Linked DNA regions of Homo sapiens: all the other regions are linked to region 3. The links come from fine-mapping of genetic effects on gene expression. A gene starts in region 3. Each other region holds a variant in brackets. All regions are shown on one strand. Distances are from middle to middle.

Region 1 (2,761 bases), 56 kb before region 3:
TTCAGGAGGCTGAGACAGAAGCATCACCTGAACCCAGGAGGTGGAAGTTGTGGTGAGCTGAGATCACACCATTGCACTCCAGCCTTGGCAACAGGAGCAAAACTCCCGTCAAAAAAAAAAAAAAAGAAGAAGAGTTTAGGGTTGGTATGAGATTGCGGTAGGGTTAGTGTTAAGGAAGGGATGCTTGGATAGGGTATTAATTTGATATTGGTCTGAGGTTATGTATCCGAAATTGGTGGGTTCTTGGTCTCACTGACTTCAAGAATGAAGCCGCAGACTCTTGCAGTGAGTGTTACAGTTTTTAAAGATGGTGTCTCCGGAGTTTCTTCCTTCTGATGTTCGGACATGTTCGGAATTTCTTCCTTCTGGTGGGTTCATGGTCTCGCTGGCCTCAGGAGTGAAGCTGCAGACCTTCATATGAGTGTTACAGCTCATAGAGACAGTGAGAACCCAAAGAGTGAGCAGCAGCAAGATTCAGTACAAACAGCAAAAAAACAAAGCTTCTACAGTGCCCAAATAGATCCTGGCAAGTTGCCACTGCTGGCTCAGGCAGCCTGAGTTTATTGTCTTATCTGACCCCACCCACATCCTGCTGATTGGTCCATTTTACAGAGAGCTGATTGGCCCATTTTACAGAGGGCTGATTGGTCCATTTTGACAGGGTGCTGATTGGTGCGTTTACAAACCTTGAGCTAGACACAGAGTGCTGATTGGTGCATTTACAATCCTTTAGCTAGACACAAAAGTTCTCCAAATACCCACTAGATTAGCTAGACACAGAGCACTGATTGGTGCATTTACAAACCTTGAGCTAGGCACAGAGTGCTGATTGGTGCATTTACAATCCTTTACCTAGACAGCGGGGCTGGAGCATGGCCGGGGCATGGCCACGGACTGCAGGTCCCGAGCCCTGCCCCACAGGGATGCGGCTGAGGCCCAGTGAGAATTCCAGCGAGGCGCTGGGGGAGCCAGGGCAGTGCTGGGGGACCCGGGGCACCATCCACAGCTGCTGTCCCAGGTGATAAGCCTCTCACTGCCCAAGGCCGGTGGTGCCAGCCGGCTGCTCAGAGTGCAGGGCCCACCAAGCCCACGCCCACCTGGAACTCGCACTGGTCCACGAGGGCCGCACGCAGCCCTGGTTCCCATCCGCGCCTCTCCCTCCACACCTCCCCGCAAGCAGAGGGAGCCGGTTCCGGCCTCGGCCAGCCCAGAGAGGGGCTCCCACAATGCAGCTGCGGGCTGGAAGGGCTCCTCAAGCATGGCCATAGTGGACGCCAAGGCCCAGGAGGTGCCAAGAGCAAACGAGGGCTGCTAGCCATTGTCACCTCTCAGTTAGACAGGGGAAATGTCGATTTCTAATGGCTAGCTGGAGAGTATATGGACAGCTTGATAGCCTCACTTACTCTCCTTCTACCATCTGCTCCCCAGTTATCTCCTAGATGTACCTCCTCTGGTTTACAACTTTGGACTTCAAAATTCTTCTGTAAAATCACAATATTTAGCAGTAGAAACTGCCCCTCTCTTGGAAAACTTACTCAACCCTCTATGACAAGATCTGCTGATTGCCTTTCCCAGCACCCATGCTCCCCTTCTTCTCAGTAACATAATCCAGATTTTTTTTTTTTT[G/TG]AGACTGAGTCTCACTCTGTCGCCCAGGCTGGAGTGCAGTGGCATGATCTAGGCTCACTGCAACCTCCGCCTCCCAGGTTCTAGTGATTCTTGTGCCTCAGCCTCCTGGATAGCTGGGATTACAAGCATGCACCACCACACCCAGCTAATTTTTGTATTTTTAGTAGAGAGGGGGTTTTACCATGTTGGCCAGGCTGGTTTTCAACTCCTGACCTCAAATGATCCACCCGCCTCAGCCTCCCAAAGCTTTGGGATTACAGGTGTGAGCCACTGCACCCAGCCAATATGGCAGATTCTATCATAAATGCTTTATCTGAATCATCTCATCTAATCCTTACAATAACCCTATGAAGTACCTCTTATTATATTTCCTTTTTGCAGACCAGTAATTGAGGCACAGAGATGTTAAATAACACAACTGAGGTCACAGGGTTGGTAAGCGGTAGAGATTGGATTAGAATCCAGGGAGTCGGAGGCCCAAGCACAAGTTCCTAAGCACCATACTCTACTGCCTCCCATTCATTCAGTAAAGAATAATTGTTACTATCTGCTGAGCACTTTCTAAGAGCCAAACTCTGTACCAGTCCTTCTCAATCAGAGTGATGTTGCCCCCAGGGAACAGGTGGCAATGTCTGAAGACATTTTCCTACCATCAGCACTATAGTGAGGAACCCTACTGGCATTGAGTATGTAAAGGCTAAGGAGACTATTAAGCAGCCTACGATGCCCAGCACAGCCCCCTACAATAAAGAATCATCCAGCCCAAAATGTCAATAGTGCCAAGGTTGGCAAATCCTGCTCTATCCTAGGCACTTTACATTTTCTCATTTAACCCTCACAACAATCCTATGAAACAGTTGCTGTTACTCTTTTACAGTGAAAAACCTAATGCTTAGACTGAGATTAAGTAATTTACCCAAAGCACAGAGCAATAGATGAAGTGGTAATTCAAACCAAGATCGGTCAGATTCCTAAAAACTTTTTGGGTCCAGGCACTGTGTCCGTTAATTTGCATATCATATAGAGTTCCCTATGGCTGCTGCAACAAATTAACCCAAACTTGATGGTTTAAAACAACAGAAATGTAGGCCGGGCACAGTGGCTCACACCTGTAATCCCAGCACTTTGGGAGGCC
Region 2 (2,761 bases), 28 kb after region 3:
CATTTTGTGGCTTGCTCCCTGCCCAGTCCTTTCTGTGCTGAGGGACATCTGTAGGTACTCAGGTGGCAGCTTGCTGTCCCGTCCTGTTTTCTCGCGAGTGTATTTTCATAGGCTTTTCCCAGGAGCTCGCTGCTTGGCTCACCTGCTCCTCCACCTCCCCTTACTGGGGAGCAGCACCAGAGCTGGCCTTGCTGAATGATTCTCTCCTTTCATCCCAGATAAGCCATTATCCAACATGAAGATCCTGACTCTCGGGAAGCTGTCCCGGAACAAGGATGAAGTGAAGGCCATGATTGAGAAACTCGGGGGGAAGTTGACGGGGACGGCCAACAAGGCTTCCCTGTGCATCAGCACCAAAAGTGAGTTGAATCTGAATTTGTGCAACAGGGACAATGCTTCTGTATCTTATGATTGTGATGACGAGTAAGTGAGGAAGAGTCGAACACAGCGCTGAAAAACTGGATCTTAACATCATCATCGCTGTGGTTCTTTATGAAGGGAAACCAGTATTTGCTCTCAGTGTTGCTGCTTTGTACTGTAGATTCACATGCATTGCGTGTTCTCAACTAAAGACGGTAAGCTACTATAGGTTGAGTCTCCCTAGTCCCGAAGCCCAAACAAATTGCCTCAAAATTCAACACTTTTTGAGTGACAACATGATGCTCAAAGGAAATGTTCATTGGAGCATTTCAGATTTCAGAGTTTTGGATTAGATGCTCAGTCAGTAAATATGAAGCAAGTATTTTAAGGTCTGAAAGGTTTCTGGTCTCAAGCATCTCGGATAAGGGAAGCTGCTCAACCTGTATTCTCATCACTTCGCACTGCTCTGTAAGATGTGCATAGATATCTGCCAAAACAGAAGTTCAAGGTTCAAGTATGTTTGGAAAAGGTAGGGTAAAACAAAGCTAAACAGGTTTCTGTGTGGGTTTATTATGCTGATTACCACTGTAGGTCTTCAGGAACCAGAGAAATAGAATACAGGATTTCCCATACATATTTGACATCAGGGTGTTTTTTCTTTGGAGTGTTTGTTAACATCGTGCTGTAGAATGGTTTGGAGAAGGCTGCCCTGGCTCATCATACCTTAGAAAAGGGGGAATGTTGCTGATAAAAACACTCTTGGGAGCATTAGACTTGGAAGCAAAGGAGAGCTGTGAATGCTGAGGGTTTGGAAGTACACACTAAATATAACTGTAGTAATTTGAAGTTTCAGTTTTGTTTTAAACTTGTATTTTGGTTTTTTTTCCTTTCAATTTGAACAGAGGAGGTGGAAAAGATGAATAAGAAGATGGAGGAAGTAAAGGAAGCCAACATCCGAGTTGTGTCTGAGGACTTCCTCCAGGACGTCTCCGCCTCCACCAAGAGCCTTCAGGAGTTGTTCTTAGCGCACATCTTGTCCCCTTGGGGGGCAGAGGTGAAGGCAGAGCCTGTTGAAGTTGTGGCCCCAAGAGGGAAGTCAGGGGCTGCGCTCTCCAAAAAAAGCAAGGGCCAGGTCAAGGAGGAAGGTGAGGGCCCCAAGCTGCCCCCTCCAGGGCCAAAAGCCAGGGACATTGGTGGCCAGGTT[G/C]TTGTCCACGGAACCTCTCCCTTTGTGTCCCTGACATGGCCTGTTGAGTGCTGCAGAGCAGGACACAGAATGGCAGGCGCTTTGGGGTGGCGGGAGTAGTGTGTATATAGATGCCGAGTTGACAGATGATGGGAATGAGAACAACTCATTTGCCTTCTACCTTCCCCTTACTTTTTAGTTACATTTAACTTCATGTTTACATTTTTCTGTTCTCCTCCAAGGTATCAACAAATCTGAAAAGAGAATGAAATTAACTCTTAAAGGAGGAGCAGCTGTGGATCCTGATTCTGGTAAGCAAACAGGACTGCCAGCAAAGTGGGCTGTGCCGCCCCCCAACCCCCAGCTGACTAGGAGCACACATCCAAATGCCCGCAGCATACCTGGGGCAGTGTGGTCGTGCCTTTGTCCTCACTCAGGCCTCCTTCACCAGCTCCCCCAGTCCTGAGAACACACATTTGTGGGGAGCCTCCCGAGGGTGGTGGTAGTGTATCCAAGAGGCGTGAACCTCAGGCCTGCAGATCCCTTCTCCGTGAGAGTGCTAGCACCTCAAGGGGAGAGAAAACTGTAGGTGCTTTTCCTCTGGGACAGGACTGGAACACTCTGCGCATGTCCTGGAGAAAGGTGGGAAGGTCTTCAGTGCCACCCTTGGCCTGGTGGACATCGTTAAAGGAACCAACTCCTACTACAAGCTGCAGCTTCTGGAGGACGACAAGGAAAACAGGTGAGTTCTGCAGGTGTAGCCTGGTTGTGCAGAGACATGGGCCCGTCCTGCATTGGTTAGTGCTGTGCCATCAGCCTTGTGAAACCCGTTAGGCCCAGTGCCTGGGGAATGAAATCTAATCACAGAGATCAAAAACAAATTATAAGGCCTTTGCTTAAAGGGGAGAAAGAAGCCACTTACTAACCAGTAGCGTTGCTGTCCTTGTACAGTTGTCCCAAGGTATGGTTTCACATATTCTTCTGCTGGCTTTTCTTTTTGTTTGGTGTTTTGTTTTTTGTTGTTGTTTTGCAACTATTTGTTTTGTTTTTTGAAATAGTCTCGCTCTGTTACCCAGGCTGGAGTGCAGTGGCGTAATCACAGCTCAGCGGAGCCTTGACCTCCCAGGCTCAAGCAATCCTCCCACCTCAGCCTCCTGAGTAACTGGGACTATAGGTGCGCACCACCATGCCTTATTTTTTATGGAGACGGGCCTCGCT
Region 3 (2,761 bases):
GGCACTATCATGGCTCACCACAGCCTCAACCTTCAGGGCTCAGGTGATCCTCCCACTTCAGCCTCCCGAGTAGATGGGACTACAGGCACCTGCCACCACCCCCAGCTAATTTTTGTAGAGACAAGGTTTTGCCATGTTGTCCAGGCTGGTCTTGAACTCCTGGGCTCAAGGGATCCGGCCACCTCAGCCTCCCAAAGTGCTAGGATTATAGGCATGAGCCACTGTGCCCAGCCTACCTTCAACGTATCTAACTGGTTACTAACTTTTAGGATTCGGCCTATGTCTCACAACCTTCTTGCTTACTCAACATCCTTGTCTCTTAAGCCACTAGCTTCTTCTCTATGGTTAACACTTTTTATGAGTTTTATTCATCTGCTTATTTTTCTTATCCTCTATACCAGAATTGAATATTTTCAAATAAAGCACACTCATGTTACAATCTTTGAAATGAAAAAAAAAAATGCATAGGATTAGAAAAGAAACCAATTTTAATAAACTATATTTTGAAGTATAGTTCTATATTAAACAACAAGATCTAGGCCAGGTGCAGTGGCTCATGCCTGTAATCCCAGCAATTTGGGAAGTCGAGGTGGGAGGATTGCTTGAGGCCAGGGGTTCAAGACCAGCCTGGGCAACATGGAGAGATTCCCCATCTCTTTCTTTACACACACACACACACACACACACAAAATATCTGATAGCAACAGGTGCAGTCATTACCACAATTTCGAGTAGTGATGAGCTTAATAATATTTCGAGTTATCACCAACAACTGTAAAGTAACATGAAAACGTCTGTGATGACTATTGCCCACAAAGTCACAGGTACTGCTAATACTCCTGGTATTTGTAGTCAAATTCATAATAAAGGAAATGCTAGGTTTCAGTTGGTATTTTGTCCCGACGGTCTGTGGACGGCAGGTTAGAACGCCCGTCCAAGCCAGGAGGGTGGACCTAGCACTGCAGGGTCCACCTCGGGCCAATCAACTATATTCCCGAGGCGGGGGCCTGCGCTTCCCGGACCCAGCTGCCCTCAGGGGAGAGAGGACACACTTAAGAGTTTGGGGCCGGCGTGGTAGCTCATGCCCCTGATCCCAGCACTTCGGGAGGCTGAGGCGTGAAGATCACTTGTAGCAGGAGTTTGAGACCAGTCTAGCCAACTTGGCGAGACCCTGTCCCTAAAAAAAATTTTTTTTTAATTAGCCAGTTGTGGTGAGCGCCTGTAGTCCCAGCTACTCGGGAGGCTGAGGTGGGAGGATCGCTGGGCTCAGGAGTTCCAGACTGCAGTGAGCCATGATGGCGGCACTGCACTCCAGCGCGGTGAGACTCAGTCTCAAAAATAAAAGGGGGAGGGGTTGGGGGTAAAATTAGTTGTGAAATCAAGTAAGACTTCCTGGGACAGAACAATCAAAGGGGTGGCGCCGGGTCCTCCAAAGAGCTACTAGCTCAGCCCAAGCCCCGCCTCGGCCCCCAGGGCAGCGGCCCGCAGAGCTCCACCCGGCAGGCGCCCGGGAAACTCCGCCCCCCGGCCGGCAGGGGGCGCGCGCGCCGCCGGCCCCGCCCCGTGGACGCGGGTTCCGTGGGCGTTCCCGCGGCCAGGCATCAGCAATCTATCAGGGAACGGCGGTGGCCGGTGCGGCGTGTTCGGTGGCGGCTCTGGCCGCTCAGGCGCCTGCGGCTGGGTGAGCGCACGCGAGGCGGCGAGGCGGCAGCGTGTTTCTAGGTCGTGGCGTCGGGCTTCCGGAGCTTTGGCGGCAGCTAGGGGAGGATGGCGGAGTCTTCGGATAAGCTCTATCGAGTCGAGTACGCCAAGAGCGGGCGCGCCTCTTGCAAGAAATGCAGCGAGAGCATCCCCAAGGACTCGCTCCGGATGGCCATCATGGTGCAGGTGCGGGCCGCTGTGCGGGCGGCGGGGCGGGGACGCGGCGCCCCGGGTTAACTGTGTCCGGGAAGGCTGGGGGAGGGCGGGCCCAGGGAGCGAGCGGGCCCGGGCCCTCGGAGCGGCACTTGGGGCCTATGGGGCCGCGGCCGCCCCTCCTCCCGAGCGGCCCGGCCGACCCTTCCGGAAGGTTTTGCTGATGTTGCAGGAAAAGCCCGGGAAATAAAGTCTGCAGCTGGTGTTGCCTTTCGCTTTGTGAAAACGAGGAGCCTCTTCTCTTCTCCTTTCTGGGTGGCGGTGTTTTATTACTGCCGTTCGCCTCAGGGGTTGGGGGGGAATTGTACATGGTCTCTTTAAGCTAATCTGATTTTGACCTATCTTGTTCTGGAGGGTTTTTGTTCTACATGGATGGTGGCGACTGACATGTGGGTTTTTTTTTTTTTTGTTAAACCTATTTTTGGCAGTCATTTCAACACGTCATTTAAACGCTCACTCTCATTTTTTATTTTAATTAGGCAGAACTATGCAGAAAGGTGTCATTTCTGTACAGTACATTCACTTTGAGCCTAATTTGTGCTTTAAAGTAACATTTTCCCCAAATTTTCCAGATTCACAGACGCGTTCTCTTGGTGCATTTGCAGCTGTCTGGTTTGAGTAAGAGTGGCTCCAGGGGGGTTTCTCATGTGGGCTTTTTGATAGATTGAATCCCCTTCTGAGGTTTCCTGAGCCTTCTGTGAGGTGGTGGGCTTGAAGGCCCCTGTCATTTCCCAGGGGCTCCTGCCTCCAGCTTCCAGTTTGCCGATGTCTACCTTTGTATTAATAATTCTGGTTCTCATCTGCCCTGTTCCTCCTCGCTTCCAACATATTACCCAAGCTTAGTGCT

What was found. PIP is the estimated chance that this variant, and not a neighbour inherited with it, causes the effect.
Region 1: its variant is fine-mapped to the expression of PARP1 in whole blood (INTERVAL, PIP above 0.99).
Region 2: its variant is fine-mapped to the expression of PARP1 in whole blood (TOPMed, PIP 0.99).

Annotation. Positions count from the first base shown.
Region 1 is chr1:226,462,594-226,465,354 of GRCh38, reverse strand. No RefSeq gene overlaps it. Among named protein-coding and RNA genes, the nearest start is that of PARP1, 56 kb to the right of the region's middle. The variant G/TG (reference allele first, on the strand shown) is at 1,627.
Region 2 is chr1:226,378,666-226,381,426 of GRCh38, reverse strand. PARP1 (poly(ADP-ribose) polymerase 1) reads left to right here. Exons shown (of 23, transcript NM_001618.4): 9 at 219-359; 10 at 1,263-1,505; 11 at 1,786-1,854; 12 at 2,153-2,285. Among named protein-coding and RNA genes, the nearest start is that of PARP1, 28 kb to the left of the region's middle. RefSeq lists an enhancer at 1,119-2,318. The variant G/C (reference allele first, on the strand shown) is at 1,565.
Region 3 is chr1:226,406,936-226,409,696 of GRCh38, reverse strand. It overlaps PARP1 (poly(ADP-ribose) polymerase 1), which reads left to right and starts at 1,604. Exons shown (of 23, transcript NM_001618.4): 1 at 1,604-1,887. The coding sequence starts at 1,768. RefSeq lists a cis regulatory region at 1,009, enhancers at 937-1,081, 1,260-1,389 and silencers at 1,420-1,679, 1,930-2,029.